Linked DNA regions of Homo sapiens. The protein of the gene in region 1 interacts with the protein of each later gene in a pairwise test. Each region holds a gene or a part of one and is shown in the gene's direction. Other genes may lie near its edges.

Region 1 (8,201 bases):
CTTTGCCAGGGTGTTAAAAACTCCATAATCCAGGTCCCATGTATCTTTCAGGCCTCAACTTCCATCACTCTTCTGTGTGATCCAGATGTCCTAAATGATATGGAGTCTCAAGAATGATTCTATGTCATTTCATTTTCTAAGTCTTTGCCCATGCTTTCCCCTCCTTAGGGAAAAGCACCCCTTTAACATTTTTTTTATTTAACTGCCAATTGGTCATCCTGTAAGGGTTTATTCACATACCACTCCTTCTGTGGAAGCCTTATTGACTTCCCTACCTGCTGTGACAATGCATGTTTTCCAAAGACGATCACATTGGTATCTCCCGACTTGCATCTTCTTACAACATAGCTTTGACTTTCCTCCTATCCAAATGTGGGGTCTATGCTCCTTTACCTTGAATCTGGGCAATGGTGAAAGTGTTGCCTTGTGACTTTTGAGGGTAGCTCATAAAAGGAAGCACAGCTTCTGCCTGATTCTCTTGTGACACCAGCCCTTGGAACTCAGCCAGCATCCTGTGAGGAAGCCCAGGCTCCATAGAAAGGCCATGTGTAGATGTTTTGGCCCATAGACCTAGCTGTGGTCCCATCTCACAGGCAGCATCAACCTCCAGACATAGGAATGAATGAGCCTTCATATAATTTTTCCAAGAAGACCTAGTTTGTTGTTGTTATTTTAACTGGAGAATGGTATTAGGAACCCAGATGTGTGTGGTAGGTGTGCTCATTGCTACTGGGGTGGGTCATGTTTAAAGAAATGTTCACTCTGGCCAGGCACAGTGGCTCATGCCTGTAATCCCAGCACTTGGGGAGGCCGACGTGGGTGGATCACGACGTCAGGAGTTCGAGACCAGCCTGGCCAACATGGTGAAACCCCATCTCTACTAAAAATACAAAAATCAGCCAGGTGTGCTGGTGCACGTCTGTGATCCCAGCTACTCAGGAGGCTGAGGCAGGAGAATCGCTTGAACTCAGGAGGCAGAGGCTGCAGTGAGCCGAGATCACGCCATTGCACTCCAACTTGCTTGACGTAGTGAGACTGTCCCAAGAAAAAAAAAGAAAAGAAATATTCACTCTGCGTGAGATGAAGTGAGGCATGCATTGGTTCTTCATGTGCTCCCACTCTATATCCAAATTTAACTATAATTGTTCTGGCTTGTAGTTGTGGCCATTTTCTTGTTTCACTAATCAAGGGATCTTTCTGTTTTAAAATTCTTTTTATTCTGGTCAGTGGGTTTTCTTGTAGAATTCTCTCTTCCCAAGCTTTACTTATATTTACCTTGGGACTTTGCAAGAAATGTAGCTTTTTAACTATAGTGTCTATAAGCATATATCAAGAAAGCTCAAATTTACTGAGAAATATAAAGATCTGCATCTCATATGCTTTGTTTTACATCTCATGTAAAACATCTTCGTTTAACATATTTGTTTTACATCTCATGTAAGATCTGCGTCTCATATGCTTTGTTTTACTATAAAACCTACCTGCCTTATCCTTGGGAGTAAGAAAGCATTTTTATAGTGTGTAGTTATGCTCTTTCCAATTGTTTGACAACTGGGGAAATAAATTGAAGTGTTTCTAGCATATTTAACTTAACTCTAAGCAAAGCCTGATCATTTTGGGCCTGTGACTCCTATTGACTGTGTATCTTCTGGTTCCAATGTCAGAGCTAAGTGGTCTGTTTAAATCTTTACTGGGGGCTTTTAACTGCCTGTTTATGCAATATCTATGTAATGTTTGTCCAATTTTATGCACTTGAACAATTTTATCTTGATTTTTGGATAAGAAAAAGGGTAAAGTCAGTATCCAGCCTTAAGGGTAAATACAATACTAATGAGTGTATTAGTCCTTTCCCTTCTCACTCCCATGTAAATTGAAGTACATAGTCAATTCTGGGAATGTAAAGTCTCCAAGGAAGTTAACTGAGCTAAGTGTTGGGGCCAAACAGCCTTTCTGACTGCTCATCAAGGAATCCCCATCAGTCTTTGGAAGGTGACCTGTTTCCTAAAGATAGATACTCAAGGTAAAATTCGTTCTATTTATCGTGAGAGACTTGCCTCAGGAATGGACTCAGCTTTAATGGGTCCTTTCCTTATGTGAATTGGTGTCTCCTGGAAAGCCCTGGAACTACAAATGTTCTACTGGGTAAATGTGTGTTTAAAAGGAAAGATATATATTTTTAAAAGTCTGCCCAGGATATTGACCCCAGCCTTGTCATTTTTAGAATGGATGCTTTAAAAGCCAGCACAATCTATCCCATGCTCCCTTTTCACCCTGCCTTGATGGCTAGGAGTGTCCCAGAGATGAGTCATGGCTATTTTTGTGTGTGTTGAGCCTCAGCTCAACAGAAACTAGCAGGTTCTCTGAGTATAGCTAAGGAACTCTGATGAAGGCCCTCAGCCTCTTGGACAGAAGCAGCATAGGCTGTACCTGCTGAAAGTGTCCCCAGACCCTCTATATTCTTCCTTCCTAACTCAACCCCTATCTTTTTTTTTTCTCCCTTGCATGGAGCACACCCTATTTCTATCTGTCTTTTTATGTATTTACATCCCATAATAGATTCGTCACCAAATCTCTATCTAGGATAATAAGACCCGGAAAAAAGGATAAGTAGATATAGTCACTCTTAATACAGATTCCAGAGCCTTTGGGGTGCTGGGAAGCATGGTGCACAGAATTTGGGCCCTTGGACACCAGCAGAAACAGAATGTCACTTGCCTGCAGTTGCTCTGGTTGCTGCCAATTAATAAAAGGGCAGCGTAAAATCTTCCTGGGAAGATTCCACTATGTGCCACTATTAGAGAGCCATGGACTGCTCTGTGTGGCCTCCCCTGAGATTCAGAGGTCAGCTCCCACCCAAAGAGTGGGAGCTTGGACCATGCTGTCGCTAAGTGCTACATCCTGGGGATGGAGAGGCCTTCCTAATATCTCTTGAAAATACTCCCCAGGGGATCTTGGATTCGCCCTATAGCATCGTCTACGGTTCTTTGAATTGCGGAGACACAGGAGAAGATAGGACACACCTTGCATTTGTCCTGGATCTATTTCCTGGTAAAGAAATATTATAAACCACTAGCTCATTTTACTCAATCTTCTTTTTTTGTTTTTCATTTTTGGCCTCCAGTAGCCTGTGGGACAACATATCCCATCAGTAACAATGGCTGGCAATAGAAGGGATTCTTCCCAGGACTGGAGTAGGTGGAGAGCAAATTTGTCTCCTCAAGAACATGTATTGAAATCTCTGAAGCAGAGGTGTATACAGTTTTCAGAACTCTCCAGGTGATTTTGATGTACACACCTTTTCAACTCTTCATTACTTTGTCATTTTAAGCTCCACACTGGCATTTCTTACATTACTCTAATAAGTAAAATTGAATAATAAATATTTTACAAAGCTCTTCATTAACTTGCATTCCAAATTGAAGGGGAAAAGTGATTCTTTTATCCATCCCCTCCCCCTTGCTGATTTGTTTGCAGAATACAGGTGCTCAGTATTTTATTTTATAAAGAAATAACAATTTCTTTATTTGAAAAAGTATTGCCTAGACAAAATATGTATAATGAAGCTGCCAGAGTGTGATGTGGCCACAGCTGTACACAATATACATTTGTGAGCTCTTAAATCGTGGGTTCTGGAATAAGATAGTGTCATTCGCGGAAAATTGAAGTAGTAATTGTGCTCACTGATTGTATGAAAAGTGAAAACAGTGCTGTTACACAGAAAGATGAATTCTATTGGTCTCTGCTTAGAAGCTGCTATGCTAAATTAAACCTGATACTAGGCCTAAGGGGATTGCATTATTTGAGGAAAAAAGAAAATACAGGTAAACCCTGACAATTCTCATCCTCTTTCTGTTTTTCCTTTATTGCCATTTGTTCTGGGAACAAGGGTATACTATTTCTCAGAGGTTCTTTCCTGGCACGAGGGTCTAGGCCAGGCCATAAGCTCATCTCAGCTTCGTTCAGTTCCTGGCCATTCATGGATCCCTCTGTCTCACCTGGTCTGGTAACTGGCTTCTAAGGGAATCCCCAGTGAGGTTTGAGCTACCCAGTCCTGAGAGCCTGGGCCAGTAATTTTCCATTTCCAGGCCTCAGTTGTTTTAATTCAATGTCAATAAATTTTGGTTAAGAAATGAAGAGTTCAAGAAATAAACCAGATTTTTAAAAATAAAAGAGCTCTTCTAGAGCTGTCAGTCAATGGTTCAAAGACAATTGTGTCCTTTCTGAGGTCTTTAGCACAAAGCCGCTAGAGTAACACTTTTCATTTCAAGAGAGAATCCAGTGACATTGTCCCTGACTTCACACTTCCTGAAAACCACTTGGCAACTCAACACCAAGAGCTTCCGGTTCTTAGCAACCTGTTTCACTTCTTGAAGCTCTTTACTGTTGGAACTCTGCGTGTCTAGGGATCCAGACTTCCGGGTTAAAGAATCGTAAGATGATTACAGTTGGAAGTTGGACCAAAGCTAGGGTAAGCAGCCATATGCCTGGTCTTTTCCATGCTCAAGGCAGCCTCCCTTCAGGTAACCGTGTCTTCACTTGGATTACCAAATTTGAAGTCAGATTCCCCTCTGGTTTCTAAAGAATTTGAATTGGGCATCACAGAGCTACGGATGCTCTCTTGCTCCAGCTCAGCAGTAATGGAGGCAGCAGGAGCCTGCAGCACAGAACAAACTCATTACCCCAGCAGCCACCTTAGCCTGGCTTGGGACCAGGAACTGAATATGGGCTCTAACAGTTCTATGACGCTATGAATCTGAAATGTTATTACTGTGCTTTGCATGGCATATGAAATTACATTCTAGCTCACCAACTGGTCTAAGATTGCCCTGGGCAAAGAGATGTTACTTCTCACTCAATTCCCTGTTAGGAGCACAATAGTACTAAAATAAATAAACAAATGAGCTCGGTTTCAGAAGGCCTAGATCTGAATCTTGGATGAGCCACTTAGGGGTTGCATAAACTTCAGTTTCCTGATCTGATCTGCTTTGGCCAGCACACAGGTCAAGCGGTTTGTGCTAGGCACATGGTAAGTGATGGTCACAGCATATCAGGGGGTGTGGAAGCAGCAGGCTCTGCCTTTCCCTGTCCCTCATTTCTCCTTGACTTCCTAGGGTGTCGTACTTACCATAGCACATGATGTGGAGAATGCTAGAAGAGCAGTTGGGTGAAGCAGGGCCACCAAATAGTCCTTGCCTCCTGGAGACCTCTGGAAATCCAGATGAGTGTGGTCTGAGGTTGGGCCTCCCACTGTGCTTGCTCCTCTCAGGCCTACCCAGCGCTGCCTCTGAAGCCTAACTCAGGGCCCTGAAACTCCCCCTTGGGGCTTCCCTTCTCCCCAGCCCTCACTCTTGGTGCCCTGCCTGGCTACCATGGTAACAGGTTCCAGGGTAACAGAGGAGGGAGCTGGGTCCTGTTTACTCCCAGTCCTGCCGATGAGGATTCTGACCGTAGACACTGAATTGTCCCGTACCTATCCGTGCTCTTTCTGTGTTCTCACCAGGGCTGAGCTCGAACTGCCACCTCTGCCAGCAGGACCATGTGTACCAGCTTGACCACTTGTGAGTGGAAGAAAGTCTTCTATGAGAAGATGGAGGTGGCAAAGCCAGCGGACAGCTGGGAGCTCATCATAGACCCCAACCTCAAGCCCAGTGAGCTGGCCCCTGGCTGGAAGCAGTACCTGGAGCAGCACGCCTCAGGCAGGTGAGAGGTTCAGTGGGGAGGGACCTTGCAGACAGCCCCTGGGTCACAGCTGTGGGGTACTTTCCAAGGAGAGACAGAGCCCAGTCGCGGGCTTATTCTGGTGTCAGCTCAGATGGGGAAAAAGACAAAGACAGCCGGCTGGGTCAGAGAGTTCTTGCTTTTAATCCTAGCAATACCACTAACTCCCTGGGTGACCCTGAGAAAGTTATGTTCCATCTTTGGGTCTTAGTTGTCCACATTAAATGAAGAGCTGTAATATCATCTATGTCCCTGCAATCTCTGACATTTAGAGTGAGTTGGAACTGAAGGAAGGAGGCCATGAGGTCCATTGGGGAAAGTTTTAATCTAGGAGTTGGGGGAATGCAGGGGGTACAGCTATGCTCTGTTCCTAGATATGTTTAGTGAATTAATCCAATTTGATCTGAATACATAAACATTTATTGACCACCTGCTGTGTGCTACGAACTGGCTCTATATAGCTAAGTAGCCTTGTAAACTTGGCAAGTCTGTTTCCCTTTCTGGCTCTCAGTTTTTATATTTACAAAATGAGGGGGTTGGTCTTAGATAATAGATCCAATCCACTCTAGCTCTATTATCTATGCACCTGTGATAAAAAGATTTAGCTTTGAGCAAAACTTTCTTTAGGAACTTAGAGCCCAGGGTCCCACTCTTTATAGGAGCTGCACATCTACCACAGGGCAAAGAGTCCTTGAGGCCAAGGGGACGAGGCCGTCTAAAGTCCACATGCCTTTCCTCCTTTTAGATCATGATTGGGGACTGGGACTACAGAAATTCCTCCCCAGACTACCTCAAGTCCATCTGTAGTGTCTGTGCAGGCCTTTTTCCTGTGTCCTTGGATTCAAGAGAGGCCAGTAAGTGGCTGTGCTCTGGAGATGTAGCCAGAACATGGACACAAAGGCTGGGTTGTTCACGTGTATGTGTGTGAAGCTTCTCATGGTGCAGAATGGTGCTGAGGGTGGGAACAGAGGAGGCAAGATGTGGGTAGGGAGCTTACGTTTGTACTCTTGTCCCAAGACCTGGAATTATTGGAGTAAACCTGCCTTGTGAAAAAAAGACAGAAAACCAGAGGTTGGCTGATTCATGTCAGTTCCATCAACTCAAGAAGCATCTATTGGGTACCTGTTATGTGCTGAGCACTGGCTCTGCCTCTAACTAGCTGTGTGTACATGGATGCCTCTCTTACTATCTGGGCTTCTGTCTCTTCTCAGTGAAATAAAGGGCTGACTAGATGCTTCTTAAGCTCGCCTGCCCCCAGATCTGATATTTTTGAATTTAAGATGTGAGGCCTAACTTGATGTAGGTGAAGCAATTCTGGGTTGGTTTGATGTAAAAAGGTGTAGAAGGAGACTGAAAACATAAAGCATTTGAACTGCCTGGTGGAAGAGGTGCAGATGCCTGGAAACTTGAGTGCCCAGGATCCAGAGTTTCGGGGCTGAGCTCAGCAAGCTCATGTCTCCTCTTGCTTCAGAGGTCAGCTCCTCTTACTCCTGGCTGGTGACTTGTGGCTCCCAGCTGGCCTCAGGAAGAGCTGAAGAACTGCTGCCCATGAGCTTATTTGTGCACAGGCTCACTCTGTCTCTAAACAGGCAGATGCCCTGCAGCTCTCACCCAGCACTGGGGGCGGGGAACCTCTCCTGGTTCAGTACCAGCTAGGTTCCTCTGACCTGCCAACCCCACCTTGGGCCATTCTGGGTACTGTTCTATGCTCATGTGATCAGGCTTTCAGGGGTCAGAGCCAGGCTTGGCCTCACCTCTATCCCATAGCCTGGGTTGAGTGGTGCTTGGCATATGGGAGGTGTTGAATGGTGTCTGTTGGATTGAATTGAGTTCCTAATCAGAAGTCCTTCAAGGCCATCATACAATGGATCCAGAAAGGGCCAGTGATGAGGACAGGGACAGCCCAGTGGACATCTGACTGCCTGTGAAGCCTCTATAACAGAGGCCTGGAAGAGGCTCATCTCAGGGAAGGAAAGAACTGCCCTGGAGGTCAGGAGTGCTGCATCACTGAAAGTGTGCAGGCAGTGGTGGGGGCGGAGTGAGTGGGGCTTGCCTAGATGAGCCCCAGGCTACCACCCACAACACTTCCTGAGACTGGGACTCTAGAAAGCCCAGGTTACGCCAAGTGGCCTCTGTGCATGTAAGAGAGAGAGAGAAAATATATGTGTGTGTGTGTGTGTGTGTGTGTGTGTGTGTGTGTGTGTGTGTGTGTGTGTGGAGTGGCAATGGGAATGAATACCCTCTTTTCCAGTCCCCACTGCAGGGCTAGAGTGGGATCTAGAGAAGACTTGTCAAGAGACTGGGGAGTGTTCTTTGTGAAGATGTAGTAACTAAACTTGGTAGTTCCTCCTAAAAGCCAGTTGATCCTACCCATCTACCGGTCTGTCCATCCCATCATTCTCAGTGGTTTACTGAGGACCTACAGTGTGCCAGGGTCTGTGCTTGGCACAGTTAGAGGCGTCTCTTCTCCCCAAAGTAAGCAA
Region 2 (6,353 bases), on another chromosome or scaffold:
AAAGAAGACAGAATCTAGTGCCTTACATATGTGGAAAGTCCAAACTTAGCACCAGGAGGAAGGGCAGGCTCTGTAGGTACAGGTAGGGTGGTAGCTGGTGTGGCAGAAGTACATGGAGAGTCTCTTCTGAGTCTTCCCATCTTCTCCGTGTTGTAGGAAGGAAGGTCCTCAGTTGAGAATGAGGAGAGAGGGAAGGAGGTGTTGGAGATTTGAAAGAAGAAAAGATGTGACTGGTCACTTGGGGGTGGAAGAGTGCGTGGACTGGGGAGATTGAGTAGGATTGATGCAGCCCTAGGGCCTCCCTGGAGTCCGCGGCTGTGAATGCAAAGAGAGCGGTCAGCATGGTTGTCTGTGTGGGAATGGACTCAGTCAACAGAACATTGCAATTGCATGGGGTTTGGTGTTGCCAGGTGCCTGCAAAGGTGAGGGAGTCAAATATGTAAAGAACTCATCTTGATTCTGGACCACAGCATATGAGCTAGGAAAGGAGGAAAGACAGGATGTGGAGAAGCCAGTGAGGGGGCAGGAGGAAAAAGGGACTACAAGTCCTGAGTGTAGTGTCAACAAGTTATTGGAATTGGGGAACTGGAGGAAATTAGAAAGCTGGTGGAGCATGAGTTGCTTGAAATTGAAGTCACAGAAGGGGCTTTGTTAATGACAAAGTTTAGGGAATGGCCAACAGAGCAAGTGGCTTGGGTAGGCAGAGCACAAGATCAGGGAGGAAAGGATGTCCAGGAACTGGGAGGCCCGGGTACTGGAAGGATCATCTACGTGGATATGGAAATCACTAGAACGTGTGACAGAGGTAGTACAGGAGAGAGTGACAGGCAGTTGCCCAAGCTGTTGAAAAATGGCATGGGAAAACTGTTCTGGAGGTTCCATATCGATATCTAGGTGACTGAAACAAGCAGGGCTGCTTTGCCCTGAGCTTCAAAGCTGGGGATTTTTTTTTTTTTTTTTTTTTTTTTTTTGAGGCTGGAGTGCCATGGCACAATCTTGGCTCACTGCAGCCTTGACCTCCTGGACTCGAGATCCTCCCACCTCAGCCTCTCAAGGAGCTGAGACCACAGGCACATGCCACCATGCCTGGCTAATTTTTTTTTTTTTTTTTGCAGAGACAGGGTCTTGCCATGTTGCCCAGGCTCCTGGGCTCAAGTGATCCTCCCGCTTGGCCCCCCAAAATGTTGGGATTACAGATGTGAGCCATTGTGCATTTTTAAGGCAGATAAAGGGAAAGTGATCTGGAAGTGGCAGTAAGGAGCAAGAAAGACTTCTCTTTAGGCCAGGGAAGAGGTTGTGTATGGAGAGAAGATAGTCGCACGTTGAGGGGATGCCAGGGAGTTAGTGCCTGAAAGGAAGAGCCAGGCTGAAGCAAGAAAGTGAAGAGGAACCCAGGGGTTGAAGGCAGGGTTGGGGAAGGTGGGAGTTGGTGTCACAGTAAAGGATGGACAGAGCTGCACAGTGACAGAGCCCAGGGTATGAAGATGGCCTCTCAAAATGGTTGAAGTGAACAGGAAGAAAGGGCCCCCTGGAGGGTAGCTCTGCTGGTCTTCAGGGCAATCTGTGGGGGTGGGGCTGTGTTGGGGAGGGGCCAGTGTGGGGGCTGGAGGACCCTGCAGAGCTCTGGGACCCCCTCTTCACTCTGGAGGAAGCTGGGAGAAAAGGGTCTTGCTGGGAGGGCAGGAAGATGATCAGTGTCAAGCTGTTGGCACAAGGTCTGGCGGGCACTCAGTAGACACACAGCCAGAGTGGCAGCCTCTTGGCCTGGGACTGTTAGACTTGTGGATCCCCGGGCCGGGGGTGCTCTGTATTTGGAAGGATGTATAAATGCAAAGGTACAGTTGCCCAAGGCCAGAGATCTGGCTGAATTGAGGCCTGGGAGTGAGTTTCTAACATCCTTGTTGATTGGGGCTGGGGTGGGTAATAATCTCTTACAGTGTAAAGTTTACAAGTATTTTTCCATCTTAGATCCCACGTGATCCTTAGGACAGCCCTTTGCAAAGGAGAACACTGAGGCCCAGAAAGGGCAACTGATTTGCCCAAGGCCACACAGTCAGGAACTTGGCTCTTTGAGCTCTAGGCCTCTTGTCCTTCTAGGCCACTATTTTGCTCCTCTCTGGCCAGATTAGTTCACTCTCGAGGAGGGGCCCAGAAGGAGGCTTGTTAGCTGGGGCCAGACTGTGTTGCTGAGGCTGAATGTTCCAGTCTTCCCTCCTGCAACATATCTTGCTCTCATAGTTCTCATTGTGAAGCTCTGAATCTTTCTTCTCTCTCCTCCCTCCCCCATGCTGCAGTACATGCTGTGGAGAGTAAGTGGCCCTGCCCCCATGGAGGCCAAACCCCTACTTCTGGGGCAGCCTGCCCTACTAGAATGGCGGGGAGGTTGGATGGGGCTGTGATTGGGTCTCCTCTGACCTGGCTGCTGGGTGACTGTAAAAGGTCTGGGATGTATCTTTGAAGTATGGTTCCTTGCAGCAGGAGGGATTGAGGCTAGAGGGCAGGAATAAATTGTTCTGGAACAGTTGGTACAGGGTCCCCATGGGATTTCTTCTGGGGAGCTTTGAGGGTGGAGGCAGGGAAAGTGTGGATGGCATTCTCAGATCCCACCTCACTTTGAGGTTCAGTGATTTGCCATCAGCTCTAGTTAGTGAGAGCCCATAGTCGGTGGGTTTTGTTTCCGGAGATGCAGGCAGGGCCATGGTGGTAGTCAAGGCATAGAGTTCCCTGTGGACGTCAGGGAGGAACCAGGGTCTGTTCTAAAGACTCCTGAGGAGGGCGTGAACTCTCACACAGGCCCAAGGCTTGCCCTTTCTGGCTGTCCTTAAGCAGGACCAGGAGGTGCCAGGCTGGAGAAGGAATGAGGGGCAGAGAAGACAGGTGGTTTGCAGTCCAGGGGGAGGAAGGAGGAGGCCAGTGCTGCTCCTACTAATGACGCCTTCTCCCTTGCCTTCTCCCTTCTCTCCTAGTCCATGACTTGCAGAGCTTTGGCCTTGACAACGTACGTACCAGATGGAAACCATGGAGGGCAGGTGGGGGTGGGAGGCTTGGTTGCTGCCTTCATTTCCTTGTAGGAACATCCTGGGATGGGGTAGTGCATATGGAAAAATACACCACGTTCTGAATGGGGATCCAGCCTGAGGGTTAAGCGAGAGTGACTTTTGAACTGAACTCTGAGCAGGCTAGGGGCAAGATTGGGGTTGGATAAGAGCATCCTAGACAGACAGAGCCTCAGCGCAAGGTCAGGCGGGAGCATGGCCCTTCTAAGGAACTGCGGGGCAGGTGTGGATGGGTGAGGCTGGAGAAGTCGGCAGGGACCAGACCACACCGGACTCAGAGGCCACGCTGAGGAATCACATCTTTCTCATGAGAACAGTGGAAAGCTGTTGGCCTTCTTTAAGCAGGATCACGACATAATCAGATTTGCATTTTAGGAAAGATCCTTCTAGTGTCTGAGGCTGATACACAAGGGAGCAGGAAGGGAGTGTATCTGGGGGTTCACAGCCTCCAGCCTAGGCCTCCAGGCAAAGCCAGCACCTGCTACTCTGTGTGCCTAACGTACAAGTGAAGCTGGTATTTTAAGAAATCTGGAACCTGGCCAGGCATGGTGGCTCATGCTTGTAATCCCAGCTACTCAGGAGGCTGAGGCAAGAGAATCGCTTGAATAAGGCGAGGCTGCAGTGAGCCAAGATCATGCCACTGCTCTCCAGCCTGGGCAACAGAGTGAGACCTTGTCTCAAAAAAAAAAAAAAAAAAGAAAAATCTGGAACCCCAGGAGTTTGCAGGCTGTGGAAGGAGGAGTTTCTAGGCAGGGAATGGGGGATTCTTATCTCGGGGAGGTTGTCCCCTTAGGACCATAGCCTCCCCTTCCTCCCACATCTCCGCAGACGGACCCAGGTGTCCCTGTCTGCTACTGTCATCAGAGCTTTGGATGAGCTCTGGATGGTGTTGTTTACAGATCAACATGACCCACTACATCCAGCACCTGTCATTTGGGGAGGACTATCCAGGCATTGTGAACCCCCTGGACCACACCAATGTCACTGCGCCCCAAGGTACCAGCCCGGGAGGCAGCCCCCAGCCGCAGAAGGCCGGCCGGGCACCCATACCCAGTGCTTTGTTTTCCCCTCAGCCTCCATGATGTTCCAGTACTTTGTGAAGGTGGTGCCCACTGTGTACATGAAGGTGGACGGAGAGGTGAGTCAGGGAGCTCCCTACCAGAGTCTCCTGCGCGGTGCCAAGCACTGGAGTTCCTGCATTTCGTTCCGTCAGCCTGGGGAGTGAAAGCTGCCTCGTCCTCACATGGCGAATAAAAGACTGAGGCACAGAGAGGGTGGGGGATTTGCCCTCCCAGGCAGAGTGCAGGCCTGGGGCTGTTAGATTTAAAGCGCCTGCTCTTTCTGCTGCCCTCACCGCTTCTATCCGTTCCTCCGGTGCCCACCGTCTGCCTGCCTCACTGTTCTCTGTGGTCTGCCTGGGCTGGGGGTTAGGCAAGGCAAGTCTCTGTGTACCCGCTCCCAAGGCTGCCCTGGCCTGTGGAGCAGCATCTCAGCAGAGTGGCAGGATGCGAGGGGCTGAGGGCAGAGGAAGTCAGGTCAGCCTTGGTGCGTCTTTGGAGAGCTGCTTCTCAGCCTGGACCCCCGTGAGAACACCCACCAAATGCTGCCAGGATAGGTAAACTGTAAAGACTTGGCACCTGGAGGGGAAGGCTGAGGCCAAGACTAGGAGAGGGGGTCTGGCGGGCCAGGCCTTGCAGTGCAGGCCACTAGCACGGTGCTGTGTTCTCTCCTTACACGGCCAAGGCTCAACAGGAAAGGGGAAGGAGCAGGGGTGGGGCTGATGGTGGCTGGAGCCAGGTCCTAGCCCTAGCCCTGGCCCAGGCTCCCCTCCCACCCCAGGTACTGAGGACAAATCAGTTCTCTGTGACCAGACATGAGAAGGTTGCCAATGGGCTGTTGGGCGACCAAGGCCTTCCCGGAGTCTTCGTCCTCTATGAGCTCTCGCCCATGATGGTGAAGCTGACGGAGAAGCACAGGTGAGGATGGGGGCAAAGCGGCCTCTGGGGGCCTGGGCCTGAGGGAGGAGGATGCCTGCTGAGCCCACCCTCTCCTTCTACCAGGTCCTTCACCCACTTCCTGACAGGTGTGTGCGCCATCATTGGGGGCATGTTCACAGGTAAGAGGCCCAGGGCGTCTGTGAGCTGTGGGGTGGGGAGGGTAAAGCCTGGGTGCCCCAGGTTTGGTTGGGGGTGAAGGGGCAGATGCTGGCCTGGCCAGTTAAGTGACAAGGCTCTCAGCGTCAAAAGCCAAGGCCCCCACTGGGCCAGTGCCAGCCCTTGTCTCTCTCCCAGTGGCTGGACTCATCGATTCGCTCATCTACCACTCAGCACGAGCCATCCAGAAGAAAATTGATCTAGGGAAGACAACGTAGTCACCCTCGGTGCTTCCTCTGTCTCCTCTTTCTCCCTGGCCTGTGGTTGTCCCCCAGCCTCTGCCACCCTCCACCTCCTCGGTCAGCCCCAGCCCCAGGTTGATAAATCTATTGATTGATTGTGATAGTACTCACTGGTCTCCGTGTGATCCTTGCCATGGCCAGAGCCTCATCCTGGCCACTCATTGAAGGCAATTGTGACTGACAGATCGGGGCCCAGAGCCCTCGGGAGCCCCACATGGGCATCCCCTAGTTAACCGGGGTTTATTCAAACCAGGTTCATGTCCAGCCCACAGCCCTGTCCTGGGTCCCTCCTCCACTGTGGTCCTCAGGCCTCTCGGGTTCAGCCCCAGGGCTCAGATGGACCTTTTCAGCGTGAGCTTCCTGGAGCCACCATGGCCCCCAGGCTCATGAGTGATCAACCCCAGGCCACTAATTCAGGGCCCTGAGTGCATATTGGGGCTTGCCACTTCTTCATTGATGGGTAAAGCTGGGGCCGCTCTCCGCCACCCTGGGCTCAATACACCTGATCCTGTCACACTCACTGATCCCACTCTGTGCCAAACCCCACGCTGGCTCTCACTGCAGAGAGGAATCCCTCCAGGTCCTCTGCAGTCTAGATGGAAGCAAAACTGAACACTGAGGTGCGAAAGTAGCAGTCAGTGGCCATTCTGGAGCAGGGCCAGCACCAGACCCCTGGCTTGGAGCCTAATCAGGGTTTCCCATTAGAACTCTGGATCCATGTGGAGAACCAGGGCCCAGCAACCTCACCAGTCCACAGCCTAGGGAACCAGGGGTACCTAAACAGCCAGTCAGTTTATCAGATCATGTCTCGAATGTTGATGCAAGACTGTGGCAGGGGAAAAGCGAGAGAGAGGGGAAAGGAAGCGAAGTCAGGTAGTGACAGCAGAACTTTTAGCTCTGAT
Region 3 (7,642 bases), on another chromosome or scaffold:
AAAATCAGAGAGGTCTCAACCTACTTACCACCGACAAAGGAGGATTCTGCATTTTCCTAGATGAAGAATGCTGCTTTTATTTTAACCAGTCAGGCTTAGTTCAGGATGCAGTAAAAAACAAACAAACAAACAAACAAAATCTCAAAGATCGAGCCCAAAAGATCAGGGAAAGCAGCTCCTCTACGTGGCCCTCTTGATCTCTCAGCACCTGGGCCGCCTGGCTACCCTCTCTCCTTGGACCTGCTGTAATCCTTTTTCTCCTCCTAATCTTAGGTCCTTGCCTAATACTCCTCTTCACCCAGTTTTTGCAGAATCGTATCCATGCCTTTGCCCATGGAACCATACAGGTCATGATGTTACTCCAGGAGTATCAACACTTTCAAAACCAAAGCCAACCTCCACTTTCCAGCCTTTCCCCTAGCCCCTGCCCACTCTCAGCCTGAAGCAGTCTGATGAAATCAATGCCCCTTCTCTATCATCTGTTAAAAGGCTGGAATGTTAGGGTCCACCCAACTGGACTGTTTCCCGCTCCCATAGACCTAAGCCCCAAAGCCCCACCTGTAACTGTCGGACCCGAGGCCAGCTGTTCCAGGATGCGGTCAAGAAGTCTACCTTACACAACAGAACTGGCAAGAAAAACAACTCCAGGAAGCGGTCAGACACCTGGCACAAAGGATCCCCTACTCCCTGGCCTTTTCTTTTTCCTTCACCCTGACCCAGTTATATGCCCTATAAAACCTTGCTATATAGCCTGTAAGCGGGGCTGCCTCCTCTGCTTTTGTCAAGAGGTAGCCCACCAGGACTGACAATGAATCACATTGACTTGAGTCTATTGACCTCATTCCTTTCTTGGCTGTCCTTCCAATTATCCCTTAAACTATTATTTTCAGTGTTTTATTATAAACAGTGCTGAATATATTTGTGGGGGTTTTCTTTGTTGGTGTTGTCATTTTTTGAGACAAGGTCTCACTCTGTCATTCGGGCTGGAGTGCAGTGGCGCAATCATGGCTCACTCCAGCCTTGACCTCCCCAGGCTCAGGTGATCTTCCCACTTCAGCCTGCTGAGTAGCTGGGAATATAGACACATGCCACCATGCTCAGCTAATGTTTTTGTATTTTTTTTTTTTGTAGACACAGGTTTTCACCATCTTGCCCAGGCTGGGCTTGAACTCCTGGGCTCCAGCAATCAGCCCACCTCGCCCTCCCAAAGTGCTGGGATTACAAGCATAATGCCAGCCCAATGCTGAATATCTTAGACATATATCCGGAATGTTTCGGTGAGTATATCCATAGCAGTGAATTTACTAGGAATTATCATGCTATTATTCGGTTTAACATTCTTTTATCCTCCTCCACTCCACTGCAGTTGAGAATAAAATCTAAACACCTTATCTTGATTTACCTGTGGCCAAGATCTGACCCCTGCCTGTCTCTTCAACCTGTTTCTTTCAATTACTCCTTACTGATGGCCTGAAGCCACACCAGCCTTTTGTCCTCAATCCCGCAAATTTATTCTTTTCCTAGGAGCCTTTGTACTTGCTCATTCTTCTTTGTAACACTTCTGCAAGAGGTGGCTGGCTCTTTGCCAGCGGGGTCTCAACTCAAAGTCCTTCTCCCTGAGGCCTTCCAGGTTTAAATGAGCACTCCCAGGCCTTCATGTCATGCTGTTAAATTGTAATCCTAGCATTTCATTCTCTAAGAAATTATTTTGTCTTCCCTTCTGGAATGTAAGCTCCAAGTGCGCAAGAGCCCTGTTTGTCTCATTTGTGAGTCCCAAGAGCTCAGATGAGTATGTACTCAAAATATATCTGGTAGGCCAAGTGCGATGGCTCACGCCTATAATCCTAGCACTTTGGGAGACTGAGGCAGGCAGATCACCTGATGTCAGGGGTTCAAGACCGTCCTGGCCAACATGGTGAAACCCTGTCTGTACTAAAAATACAAAAATTAGCTGGGCATGGTGGCACATTCCTGTAATCCCAGCTACTTGGAAGGCTGAGACAGGAGACTCACTTGATCCCAGGAGGCAAAGGTTGCAGTGAGCCGAGATCGCGCCACTGCACTCCAGCCTGGGCAACAGAGGGAGACATCATCTCAAAAAAAAAAATAATTCTGGTGAATTAATGGTGTGGATTTAAAATTGTGATATATGCTGGGTGCCTATAGTCCTAGCGTGGAAAACATAACAAGTCCCCATCTCTAAAAAATAAATGAAATTATCATATAGGCTGCCAAATTGCTTTCCATACAGAGTCACCAGTTTTCAAAGTCACTGACAGTGCTTGTTTGTTTTTGAGATAAGGTCTCACTCTGTCACCCAAGCCGGACTGCAGTGGTGTGATCATGGCTCACTGCAGCCTTGACCTCCCAGGCTCAAGCTATCCTCCCATCTCAGCCTCCAGAGTAACTGGGATTACAGGCATGTACCACCACACCTGGCTAATTTTTAATTTTTTGTAGAGATGGAGCCTCACTATGTTGCCCAGTCTGGTCTCTAGCAATTGTCTTGCCTCAGCCACCCAAAGTGGATTTTCTGTCTTGATTCCTTTCTCACTTCTTACCTTAATTTATTTGATGAATCATTCACTTTACAAATATTTATTGATTATTCACAGGCTCAGGCACCGTGCTAAAATGGTTCTTTCTTATCTGGCCACACCTATCTTCCAGCCCAATCTTGCCAAGAGTTTTGGCCTGGGCCTTACTTCAAAGTGACGTAGACTTGTACTGTAGAGGTCTCTAGAAAGACAACCCTTGGCTGGGCATGGTGGCTCATGCCTGTAATCCCAGAACTTTGGGAGGCTGAGACAGGTGGATCACAGCCAGCCTGGCCAACATGGTGAAACCCCATCTCTACTAAAAACACAAAAATTAGGCGGGCGTGGTGGTGCTTGCCTATAATCCCAGCTACTGGGGAGGCTGAGGCAAGAGAACCATTTGAACCTGGGAGGCGGAGGTTGCAGTGAGCCGAGTTTGCACCACTGCACTCCAGCCTGGGCAACAGGGCGAGACTCCTCCATCTCAAAAAAAAAAAGAAAAAGAAAAAAGAAAGACAACCCTTAATGGGGGAGATGAGGACAGTCCCTACACAGAATCTTTGGCAGTGTCAATGTATACATTAATTTGCTAATCAACTAGGCTAGCCCTTTAATCTATATATTGTACTGGATTTTAAAAATTATTTCTTTACTTTCTCATTAGACCTTCCTCTTTTTTTTTTTTGTTTGTTTGTTTGGAGACAGAGTCTCCCTCTGTCGCCCAGGCTGGAGTGCAGTGGCAGAATTTTGGCTCACTGCAACCTCTACCTCACGGGTTCAAGCGATTCTCCTGCCTCAGCCTCCTGAGTAGCTGAGGTTACAGGTGCCCGCCACCACGCCTGCCTGATTTTTATATTTTTAGTAGAGACGGAGTTTCACCATGTTGGCCAGGCTGTTTTGAACTCCTGACCTCAGGTGATCCGCCCACCTCGGCCTCCCAAAGTGCTGGGATTACTTCTGTGAGCCACCACCGCGGCCGGTCCCTTCCTCCTTTAAAAATTTTTCTCCCAGTTCCCACTTTTTGTGGGTTAGAGGCATCTAAATTGAATGAAAGTACCCTTTTTGGACTACTGGGGAGGTGGGGGGATGTTCTCAGAAGGGGAATTTTCTTTCTGGTCCTAATATCCACCTAATTTTTAAAAGCAGGGCTCCTTATTATTTTGTAAAGTTTACAATTACATCATTAGATACTTCCATGTCTCATATTTCATTTTTCCAAACTCTTGGGGGAAATGAGTGGAGGGATGGATGGAATAGAAAATAGTTTTTCCTCTTGGAGGCTGAGGGCCCAGTAGGGGTCAACAGTACATTCAGCCCTCTCCTCACATATTCTGTTCTACCTACAAGTACAGCAAGTAAAGCCAAATTTCTCATGCATGCAAATAAAGTTTTTGCATTTGGCCAGTCGGTCCAGTTCTCCTGTCAGCTTCCTTCCCCACTCTGCCTCTGTTCATTAATCCCCCCCTTCCCGGTACCTAAACCCTCCACCTAACCCAGCCCTTTCTTCCACTTCCGGCTACTAGCCTCTCTCGCCTATCCACTATCCTCACACTCAGCATCCCCTGTCTGTACGAGATTAAGGAGCTCTGCCGTCCGCAGGGCCTGGGTTAGCGTGAATCTAAGCCAGAGCTCCCGGGTGGGGGTGGGGGTAGGGGTGGGGGTGGTCCCAGAGGTAGGGCGAGGAGGTGGGAAGCGTATTCCCTTCACTGGTGATCTCAACGTAGATTTGCCCGGAGTTCTCTTGCAAGAGAGCTGGCAGGTTTTACTATTTCCCAATCGTTTACTCGCCAAGCTCTCGGGTCCACGCGCCGCGGGGATGCGCCCTGCAAGCTGAAACTTCATTCAAAGCAAGGCGGCCCACGAGGTTGGGCTTAGGGGATCTGGATGACCTCCAGGCCACTTCCTTTCTCTCTGCGCCCTTCCCCCACTCTTCCAACCACCTTCGCTGTAAACAAAACTGTCCCCCCCGGGCGGAGAGAGGTCGCGCTCTTTCGCACACTCCCTCGCCAAGGGTTAATTTCTCAAATCGCACGAGGGGGAGGAGATTTCCCTGTAGACGAGTAAAAAGGGTGATGGACAAACGTGCGGGCACTAAGACCGCAAGGCATTCATTTCCTCCTACGGTGGATGCGGACGCCGGGAGGAGGAGAGCCCCAGAGAGAGGAGCTGGGAGCGGAGGCGCAGGCAATGCTCAGCCCTGGATGTAGCTGAGAGGCTGGGAGAAGAGACGACCGCTGGAGACCGAGCGGCGTGGGGAAGACCTAGGGGGGTGGGTGGGGGAAGCAGACAGGAGAACACTCGAAATCAAGCGCTTTACAGATTATTTTATTTTGTATAGAGAACACGTAGCGACTCCGAAGATCAGCCCCAATGAACATGTCAGTGTTGACTTTACAAGAATATGAATTCGAAAAGCAGTTCAACGAGAATGAAGCCATCCAATGGATGCAGGAAAACTGGTACGTGATGCTTTCGCCTGATACTGTTCCCGGGAGCCCTGCGCGTCTTCCCGGAGTGCCTTAATGTCGGTATTCCCTGCCTGGGCGTGAATGGAGCGATGAATCGCGGGCAGCCAGCTGATCGCTGAGTTCTCGGGTCTCCCGGGTGCAGGAGACGCTGGGGGGGGGGGGGTACATGAAGCGCGAGGTCTGTGGGTGCCCCTGTGTGAACCGCGGCTACATAGGCATCTTTTATATAGATTATATAACACAGAACATATGTGTGTGCACAGGGTGATGTCTGCGCGACAGGGAAGGCGGGAGAGATGCCACAGTCCAGATCGCCTACCTGTGCTCCCCTCCCCTCCCCCGGTTTTCATCTAGATTTGGGTTTTCTCGCTTGGCCTCTCCCGCAACCGGAGTGTGAAAGGCAGTGGAGGGAGGACCTTGTCTCCTGTTGCCTTTAACCCTCTCCCGCCCGCCGCCCTTGGCCCTGGTCCTCGCTGTCTCTCCATCCCTCGTGTCCTTCCTTTCTCCTTGCAGCGCTCCTACTTCACCGTCCTCCTCTGTCTGCCGCTCCTCAGGCGGATGCCCCCTTTTTAGTACCCCTTTCCCCACGCGGTTCCCTTTCCGGTTTCATAGAGAGACCGGGTGGGAGGGAGGAGGGGACAATGAAAACAGTAATAAATGAATGAACCCGAGCGAGTGGAGCCACGCCATTATTAAGTTTCTGTTTTACGGAAACGCCTTTTGGACACACTTCTAATTCTGTGCGTAGCTGCTGATTGGAGTTCAGGCACACAGATTAAAAGCCCCTCCGTCTGCAGAGTCCTTAGGGGCTCTTCCCTAGGAAACTAATAATCAGGGAAAACACCTTTCTTGTTTACTGTAGTCCCCCCGCCAGACCTTTTGAAAATCCCTGTGTGGGAGGCGATCCAGTGTCACCTTGCAATATTTAACAGAGGAGGGTGTGCTCATCTCGCTTCTTGTAGACAGGGTTGTGGCAGAGGCATTCCTCTCCTCCCCTTAACTTCGGGTCTGGCGATCTGTAAAGTTCAAGCCCAACGCACCCCGGAGCTAGGCAAGGGGCCGGCAGCCCGGGGGATGGCTTGACCGGGGAGGGTCGGGCCGCAGGGTCTCCCGGGAGCCGGGGGATTCCGCCCGCCGCGTGCGCGAGCGCGCGTGCCCCGCGCCCTCCCGCCTGCCCTCTTCAACTGGAAACCAGAAACGCCGGCGCGCCTGTGGCCTGGGCGGGTTGGTGCAGTAGGAGCTGGTGCCACGGGGCCGCAGCTGCGAAAAGGGGGTTTCAACTTCCTGTCCTCCAGCCCCCTGGAGTCGCCGGCCAGTGTCGGGAGGCCCGGCCGCCGCTTCCTTCTCCTCCCGCCCGGCCGGAGCGCGCCCACTCCCAGCTTCCCGCGGGCTGGTCCGGGCCCCAATGGCCATTTGCGGCGGCTGCCGGGCGGAGCCCGCCTCCTGGGCCGCGCGCACCGGCGGGGCAGGCCTGCTTGGGGTGAGCTGCGGCGTGGCTGGTGGCGGCGGTGGGCTAGGGGCCCAAGGGCCGCGTCTGGCCCGAGCCGGAGCCTAAGAGGCGGGGACGCGGGCCGCTCGGAAGGACTGGAAGTGCAGCAGCCACACAGGCACAGGGCTGGTGCCCTCCCGGGCCGCTGAGGCCAGGGGGTGCAGGGGTGGGTCCGGAAGGAGGTTGGACACTAAGGGTCGAGACCGCAGATAGACCTCGGCGTTTCGGGGCAGCCGAGGCCCCTCGAGCCCCACCGCCCGGGGTCCTTCTCTGGATGCACTTCCTCCTCCCGCTTAGGGGGTGGTGCTGGAGGCGGGGAGGGGGCGGTGGCCGGAGCCGGCGGGCGCCGGAACCGCGCTGCTGGCTAGCCCCGGGCCCGGGTCTTCTCCGCACATGTTTGTCATATCCTCCAGCCGGCCTGTTCGGGCCCACAGTCCTCCCGCATTAGCCTGTGTGGTCAGTGTGGTCAGCATTTGCTTCTGTGCCGAATCTCTGACTTGCTGCGTCCTGGTTTAACCTGCTCTTCCGGAGTCCGCTTTCCCTCGCTTTGCTGGCTGACCCCATTCACTGTACGCCCGCCATTCCTAGCCCACTGCAGTCGATACTGCCTCTTATTTACTTGTTGCTTTTTCTCTGAGGCCACTTCCTAGGCCTGCTTCAGGTACCATTTCCCGCCTCTTCTCTCCATTCACTCAGTACTGAGCCAGACAGGTCTCAGCCCTCGTGGGACTGAAAATGACAAAAATGTGCCAACGTATCTACTCCTGTTAGGTTCTGACCACTGTTTCCTCCTAGTTCTTTATCTGTACCTTTCTTCTGGCAATATCCTTTACTGTTATATACATGGTTATTAACTTACAGACCATCAGCTCTTCAGGTTACGGTTCTTGTCATCCCACTCTTGATTCTGCAAAGCACCTAGCAGAGTGCTTTGCATAAGGCACATTCTTGAGAAAATGTCCAGTGAGTTGAAATGGTGATTGGTGCCCATTTTATTGCCAGCACTACTCGTTAATACCCGAAGGTTAACAGGCTAGAACTTGCATACCGTGGCAGAGTCACATCTTGGGATTTTTCCCTTCCTGGCTTCTGCTCTCTGTTGATGTTATGTTCTTAGATTGCTTATTGCAGTCAAAGAACCCTGCTGG
Region 4 (7,437 bases), on another chromosome or scaffold:
GTGACTGCATATGTGTGTGCATGTGTGGGTGCGGGTGCATCTGTGTGTGCATGTTTGGGTGCGGGTGCATGTGTGCGTGCACGTGTGTGTGGATGAGAGGTCGCATGTGTGTGGGTGAGGGCGTGTGTGTGTGCATGTGTGTGGGTGAGGGGGCATGTGTGTGCACGTGTGTGGGTGAGGTGTGTGTGTGCATGTGTCAGGGTGTGTGTGCGCGCATGTGTGTGGGTGAGGGCCTGTGTGTGCGTGTGTGTGGGTGAGAGATGTGTGCGCATGTGTGTAGGTAAGGGTGCTTGTGTGCGCATGTGTGTGGGTGAGGGCGTATGTGTGTGGGTGAGGGCACGTGTGCGCGCGTGTGGGTGAGATGGCGTGTGCGTATATCCATGTATGACTGCATCTGTATTTGCATGAGTTCATGTGTGAGTGCATGTTTATACGCGTGTCAGGGTCTCTGTGTATGTGTATGACGTGTGAGTACATGTGTTAATGTGTGTGTACATGTGTATATGCCTGTGTGCATGTGTGTATGCATGTGTATACATGTGTACTTGTGTATGTGTATATGTGTATGTCTGTATATGTGTGTGTATGCCTGTGTACGTATGTATATGCGTGTGTGTATGCATGTGAGTGCATGTTTATGCGTGTGTATGTGTACTTGTGTGTGCCTGTGTGAGTGCATGTGTGTGTACATGTGTATATGCGCGTGTGCGTATGCGTGTATGTGTACGTGTGTATATGCATGTGTGTGTATATGCCTGCATGTATATGCACAAGTGTGTATATATGTGTATGTGTGAGTGTATGTGTGCATGTGTATCTGTATGTGCGTGTGTATATGTGCATGTGTGTATGTGTGCGTGAGTGTGTGCATGTGTGTGTGTATGTGTGCGTGTGTATGTGTGTGCGTGAGTGTGTGAGAGTGTGTATGTATACGCACGCGTGTGTGTCTGTCTCCCTCAGGACAGTGCCCAGGCGGATGGGTCAGTGCTCCTGGGTTGGTTTGCCCCTGGTGGCCCATGTCTGAGCCCTGCCCCTTACGGCTCTGTCTGCAGGTTCTCCCATGGGCAGGTGGTCTCTCTGGATGAGCTGCGCCCCTTCCAGGACCCAGACCTGAGCTCCCTGCAGGCCGGCTCTGCGTGTCTGGCCAAGCACCAGGATGGCCTCTGGCACGCAGCACGCATCACCGGTGAGGCTGGCCGTGGGGGCCTCCCGGGAACACCCTCCCAGGCCCCACGTGTGTTGTCACTGTGTGGCTGCTCCCTGCTTCCTTTGGGTTGAGTGTCGGGACTCTGGCTCTGGGCCCGAAATGAGCACACCTACCCTCAGCCTCTGCCCTGCCTTGCTCCTCATGTCCAGGGTGGTTCCCTTCAGTGGCACCTGCTGTCAAGGATTCTGACCTGCAGCTTGTCTCTGCCCCCAGATGTGGACAACGGCTACTACACAGTCAAGTTTGACTCGCTGCTGCTGAGGGAGGCCGTGGTGGAGGGGGACGGCATCCTGCCCCCACTGCGCACAGAGGCCACAGAGTCCGACTCAGACAGCGACGGTACGGGTGACTCCAGCTATGCCAGAGGTATGGCAGCAGCTGCGGAGCCCAGGAGCCAGGAAGGTGGGGTCACCCTGAGAGGCTCCTGGCCGGTGAGGGCACCAACCATCTAACCAAACTATTGGAGAGTGTGTGACTGCGGCGAGGGTGCCACCTGTGCCTGAGGAGGCCGTGTGGGTAGGGGTAGATCCGTGGCGGCCTTTATCTTCAAGGAGTGTGGGTGCAACAGCTACAGTCTCATTGATGGGAGGCCATGGTCGTGGCTGTGGCCATGGGAGAGGAGGGGCCTGGAGTTGCCGAGGAAGTCACAGAAAATGACCAACTGATGGGGCCTGGAGTGCAGGAGGGGCAGCTCCTCTGCATGGCTTCTCAGACTTGGGACCTGGGTGCCTGGGATCCTGGCAGACAGAGGTTGTGTCCAGACAGCCAGCATGGAAGTTTCGGGAATGGGAACTGGTGGGCAGTGTCCAGCTCTCCAGAGGGGTGTGTGTATGCGTGTGCGTGTGTGTGTATATATGTGGGAGGTCACCTGACCCAAGCATGGCGGGCTGAGTCCAGGAGGGGTCTGCATGTTGGAGGTGTACCCAGGGATCAGTGATGGTGGTTTCTGAAGCCCCATGTCCCTGGTGAAGGAGGACTGAACCAAGGACTCTGTGAGGGCAGGTGAGGCGCTCACAGCCTCGCGAAGGTGGAGAAGGGCAGGGGCAGGAGAGGGCTGCGGAGGAGGGGCCACGGTGCAGCAGGCCGTGGGGACTGCCATGCACTCTGCCTGGTGTCACATGCCCACAGCAGCCTCGGTGACGAGAGCACGGAGCCCAAGAGGTGGGGTGTCGTGGCTCTGCCCAGGATCTGAGCTCATTGGTCAAAGCCCGGGTCACCATGCACAATCCTCTGGCCTGGCTGGGCCACTGCCCTCTGTCCATCTCTTGCAGTGGTGGGGTCGGACGCCGTGGACTCTGCACAGTCCTCTGCCCTCTGTCCGTCTCTTGCAGTGGTGGGGTCAGATGCTGTGGACTCTGGGACCTGCAGCTCTGCCTTTGCTGGCTGGGAGGTGCACACGCGAGGTATAGGCTCCAGACTCCTCACCAAGATGGGCTATGAGTTTGGCAAGGGTGAGTACAAGCTGCCCTGGAGAAGTGGGCAGGCTGCTGCAGCATAGCCCAGGTCCAGCAGCCATCAGGTTCCCGGGGTCCCGCAGCCATCGGGTTCCCAGGGTCCCGCAGCCACAGCACTGCCATCCCCGTGCTCCTCAGATTCCCGGGGTCCCGCGGCCACAGCACTGCCATCCCCGTGCTCCTCAGATTCCCAGGGTCCTACGGCCACAGCACTGCCATCTCCGTGCTCCTCAGATTCCCGGGGTCCCGTGGCCACAGCACTGCCATCCCCGTGCTCCTCAGATTCCCGGGGTCCCGCAGCCACAGCACTGCCATCCCCGTGCCTCCGCAGGTTTGGGCCGACACGCGGAAGGCCGGGTGGAGCCCATCCATGCTGTGGTGTTGCCTCGAGGGAAGTCGCTGGACCAGTGTGTGGAGACCCTGCAGAAGCAGACCAGGGTTGGCAAGGCTGGCACCAACAAGCCCCCCAGGTGCCGGGGAAGAGGGGCCAGGCCTGGGGGCCGCCCAGCTCCTCGGAATGTGTTTGACTTCCTCAATGAAAAGCTGCAAGGTCAGGCTCCTGGGGCCCTAGAAGCCGGGGCGGCCCCAGCGGGGAGGAGGAGCAAGGACATGTACCATGCCAGCAAGAGTGCCAAGCGGGCCCTGAGCCTGCGGCTCTTCCAGACTGAGGAGAAGATCGAGCGAACCCAGCGGGACATCAGGAGCATCCAGGAGGCTCTCGCCCGCAACGCTGGCCGGTACGTGTGGGGCCCAGCTCAGGGCAAAGGGCGACCCAGGGTGGCCCTGCCCCCGGGATACATGCTGGAGGTCACCTGACCCAAGCATAGCGGGCTGAGTCCAGGAGGGGTCTGCATGTTGGAGGACGGGCAGCGGGCACACAGGCAGTGGGTACGGCAGACTGGGGTTGGTGGCATGGCCCAGGACCCCACGCTGACTAGTGAGCCCCTCCGCAGGCATAGCGTGGCGTCAGCCCAGCTGCAGGAGAAGCTGGCAGGAGCCCAGCGCCAGCTGGGGCAGCTCCGGGCTCAGGAAGCCGGCCTGCAGCAGGAGCAGAGGAAGGCAGACACCCACAAGAAGATGACTGAGTTCTAGAGACCCCACAAGCACTATGGACGAAGCGTGGGACCCCAGCACGGGCTGCCCTCAGGAAGACCAGTGTTGCCCGAGGAGGGGCCGGCCTGCTGGCCTGGGGCGTGCAGACACTGCTGAGTGGAGACAGAGCTGCGGGGTCCCATCTGGACACTTACTTGCCCACCTGCCAGTGTCTTGGGCATTTCCTTGGCAAGGACATTAAAGTGATTTCATCACAGTGTCATTCAGTGGAGATCAGCTGGCTGCAGGGTCTCTGGGGAGAGAAGGGTCTGTGCAGGGCTGTGGTGAGAGACGGGCTGGGCTGGAGGGGCCTAGGAGGCCGGCATTCTCCCTTCTTACCCTTCTCTGACCAAGGCAGATCGGAGGCCAGGGTGCCCGCCAGGCTGCCTGACACCCACAGATGGGTGGAGCTCAGTGCTGCTCCAGCGGGCGAGACGGGCGGGAGAGGACTGTGGCCCACCACGTGGGGCACTCTTGGTGAGGCAGGCGGACCTGGCCCTGTGGGTTTGGGGGTTCTGTGCCAGCTCTGCTCACGTCTTCGTGTGTGGAGGGGTTGTGAGTTAGGCTGTCAGAACAGTGCGGGCTAGAGGCGCACACGTTTCATCTAGGCTTCGGGCGGGGCGCAGCAGGTGGGTGAGGCTGCGGTGGTGGCTGCTGCCCAGGGTGGGAGGCTCAGGGGAGGCGCTTGGCGACAGGAGCAGGAAGTGATGAGGTGGGGAGCTCAGCCGAGGGCTGCACAAAGACCTTCCTGGCCTGCCCCAGACAGAGCTGAGGACCCCTGGCCGTGGGCTTGGTAAGTGCCCTCCTGGGGGGCAGCTGGGGTCTGGGAGGCCTTGGGATGTGGCTGCAGCTGGGTCAGTCAGCCAGGCTGAAGCCCACTCCCTGGGTCTGAGCAGACTGGCCCCAAACTCCAGAGACCACCCCTCACCCCCCAGCTTCTGTCTCTGCTGCTGGACTGTGCTGTTTGTAAGGCATCCCCCACCCCGAGAAGTTCTGCTAAGATCCCCAAGAAGGGGACAGATCCTCTCTGGCAGAGACACTGGCAGACAAGAAGAGCCAGAGAGAAGTGGGGTGGGGGCATCAGCACCCCCAGCAGCTGCTGCTGCCTGCTGACCCAGCCTCCAGCTCCTCCGGGTGCAGGGTCCCTCCTGCTGACCAGCCTCCAGCTCTTCCCAGTTCTGGGCTCCGCAGCGAGCGGCTTGGGGGCACTACCTGACACAGGAGACCATGTCTGGGCAGAGGGTGGCTGCAGGTGGAGTCTGTGGCCTGTGGCGCACACCCAGGGGCTCCCCCGATGCTGGTTACTATCTGGGCTATGGTGGCCACAGCTGTCTTGCCCCTCCTCACGGCCGTGCTGGGTGTTACCGTGGTCACCCGCAGGGACACGGAGGGGCCAGGCAGAGCAGCCCTAGTTCACCTCACCGGGAGCCCCCGCCAGAAGGTGGGCACCTCTGGGAGGGAGGGACTGCCAGGCCTTGGGGCTTCCTGTGCTGAGTCAGAGCTGGAACGGGAGACGCAGGAGCCCCGCAGCCGCGGGAGGTGCAGATTTGGGGCTGCCAGGTGGCGCCAGGTCCCCTTGGCCAGCCCCCAGCGCCCCTTTCTTCTGTCCCCAGGGCCTCGGCTTCACAGGATGGGGCTGCCAGTGTCCTGGGCCCCTCCTGCCCTCTGGGTTCTAGGGTGCTGCGCCCTGCTCCTCTCGCTGTGGGCGCTGTGCACAGCCTGCCGCAGGTAGGTCCCTCAGCCGCGTTCTGTCTGGGGCCTCGCTGCGGCTGCCATTCACAGCCCAGCGCGGGAAGGGGCTGGAGGCAGGTCCGCGCACCCAGCTCGGCACGCGCGCCTGCACCGGGCCTTGGACCCGAGGCTGACGACCCCGCCCCCCGCCCCCCACCTCTACCCCCAAGGCCCGAGGACGCTGTAGCCCCCAGGAAGAGGGCGCGGAGGCAGCGGGCGAGGCTGCAGGGCAGTGCGACGGCGGCGGAAGCGGTGAGTGCCAGGCTGTCCCGGGGACCAGGGTGGGGTCCGCAGGGCACCGACCAGCCTTCCTCGCCCCCAGTCCCTACTGAGGCGGACCCACCTCTGCTCCCTCAGCAAGTCGGACACCAGACTGCACGAGCTGCACCGGGGCCCGCGCAGCAGCAGGGGTGAGCAGAGGGCGGGGCGGGGGCGGCCGGGCGGGGCTTACTGTGCAGCGCGTGCCAACCCCTGGGCCAGACCCGCTCCTGCCCCCTGCCCGGAGTGAACTCTGCCCTGACCCCACCCCCAGCCCTGCGGCCTGCCAGCATGGATCTCCTGCGCCCACACTGGCTGGAGGTGTCCAGGGACATCACCGGACCGCAGGCAGCCCCCTCTGCCTTCCCACACCAGGAGCTGCCCCGGGCTCTGCCGGCAGCTGCAGCCACCGCAGGGTGCGCTGGCCTCGAGGCCACCTATTCCAACGTGGGGCTGGCGGCCCTTCCCGGGGTCAGCCTGGCGGCCAGCCCTGTGGTGGCCGAGTATGCCCGCGTCCAGAAGCGCAAAGGGACCCATCGCAGTCCCCAAGAGCCACAGCAGGGGAAGACTGAGGTGACCCCGGCCGCTCAGGTAACGTGGGCCAGGGTAGGGCGCTGTGGGTGGGGCCGGCAGATCCTCAGCAGGTTGGATGGTGCTGACCCCTCCTCGGGTTGGCTTCCTGTCTCCAGGTGGACGTCCTGTACTCCAGGGTCTGCAAGCCTAAAAGGAGGGACCCAGGACCCACCACAGACCCGCTGGACCCCAAGGGCCAGGGAGCGATTCTGGCCCTGGCGGGTGACCTGGCCTACCAGACCCTCCCGCTCAGGGCCCTGGATGTGGACAGCGGCCCCCTGGAAAACGTGTATGAGAGCATCCGGGAGCTGGGGGACCCTGCTGGCAGGAGCAGCACGTGCGGGGCTGGGACGCCCCCTGCTTCCAGCTGCCCCAGCCTAGGGAGGGGCTGGAGACCCCTCCCTGCCTCCCTGCCCTGAACACTCAAGGACCTGTGCTCCTTCCTCCAGAGTGAGGCCCGTCCCCCGCCCCGCCCCGCCTCACAGCTGACAGCGCCAGTCCCAGGTCCCCGGGCTGCCAGCCCGTGAGGTCCGTGAGGTCCTGGCCGCTCTGACAGCCGCGGCCTCCCCGGGCTCCAGAGAAGGCCCGCGTCTAAATAAAGCGCCAGCGCAGGATGAAAGCGGCCAGCCTCGCAGCCTGCTCTTCTTGAAAGCTGGGCGGGTTGGGGCGGGGGGCTTCTCTGGAAGGCTTGGAGCTGTCCCCTCTGGCCTTGGGGGACTGGCTGCCCCCGGGGCGCCCGGGCCTAGCCGAGGCGGTGCTCCTGCCGGCCAGACTCTCGGTCAGTGCGGGCACGGGGTCCCAGCCACTCCTAGGGGGCAGCGCAGCCGGCAGGGTGGCCGCCCCCGGGTGGGACTTGGACCCTGGACTCCACGGGAGGGCTCCGCCACCCAGCCTGGTGTTACATAAGGGGTGGTGGAGGTGGGCAGTCGAGCGTTAAAGAGTAACCTGCTGCCGGGAAGCCCGCCAAGCAATCGCGGCCCCTTCCCCGGCTCTGGCAGCTCTGCGAGCGCGCCCGTGGGGAACGGGCCCTCCCCGGCGGGGCGCGCGGGCGCGCGAGGTGGGCGGAGGCCTCGGAGCTGTGCCGGGCCGGGCCTCCCTCCCTAGGCCAGCGCGGGAGCGACC

What was found.
Region 2: the proteins of RTP2 (region 1) and ERGIC3 interact in binary tests that used the Homo sapiens proteins (3 or more experiments, as listed by UniProt).
Region 3: the proteins of RTP2 (region 1) and ELOVL6 interact in binary tests that used the Homo sapiens proteins (3 or more experiments, as listed by UniProt).
Region 4: the proteins of RTP2 (region 1) and LIME1 interact in binary tests that used the Homo sapiens proteins (3 or more experiments, as listed by UniProt).

Annotation. Positions count from the first base shown.
Region 1 is NC_000003.12:187,699,464-187,707,664, reverse strand, and holds the start of RTP2 (receptor-transporting protein 2), read left to right. Parts: upstream 1-5,107; 5' UTR 5,108-5,536; coding exon 5,537-5,700; intron 5,701-8,201. UniProt on the Homo sapiens protein: Specifically promotes functional cell surface expression of olfactory receptors, but not of other GPCRs.
Region 2 is NC_000020.11:35,552,078-35,558,430, forward strand, and holds the end of ERGIC3 (endoplasmic reticulum-Golgi intermediate compartment protein 3), read left to right. Parts: intron 1-2,294; coding exon of another isoform or gene 2,295-2,309; intron 2,310-2,966; coding exon 2,967-2,998; intron 2,999-3,955; coding exon 3,956-4,052; intron 4,053-4,129; coding exon 4,130-4,194; intron 4,195-4,895; coding exon 4,896-5,032; intron 5,033-5,116; coding exon 5,117-5,172; intron 5,173-5,347; coding exon 5,348-5,427; 3' UTR 5,428-5,557; downstream 5,558-6,353. UniProt on the Homo sapiens protein: Possible role in transport between endoplasmic reticulum and Golgi. Positively regulates trafficking of the secretory proteins SERPINA1/alpha1-antitrypsin and HP/haptoglobin.
Region 3 is NC_000004.12:110,195,601-110,203,242, reverse strand, and holds the start of ELOVL6 (very long chain fatty acid elongase 6), read left to right. Parts: upstream 1-4,627; 5' UTR 4,628-4,907; coding exon 4,908-4,996; intron 4,997-7,642. UniProt on the Homo sapiens protein: Catalyzes the first and rate-limiting reaction of the four reactions that constitute the long-chain fatty acids elongation cycle.
Region 4 is NC_000020.11:63,732,167-63,739,603, forward strand, and holds LIME1 (lck-interacting transmembrane adapter 1), read left to right. Parts: upstream 1-4,497; 5' UTR 4,498-4,546; intron 4,547-5,366; 5' UTR 5,367-5,383; coding exon 5,384-5,481; intron 5,482-5,654; coding exon 5,655-5,736; intron 5,737-5,806; coding exon 5,807-5,894; intron 5,895-6,016; coding exon 6,017-6,333; intron 6,334-6,431; coding exon 6,432-6,734; 3' UTR 6,735-6,937; downstream 6,938-7,437. Other genes in the region: ZGPAT (zinc finger CCCH-type with G patch domain-containing protein), read left to right, coding at 1,053-1,186, 1,421-1,573, 2,479-2,658, 2,993-3,398, 3,615-3,753.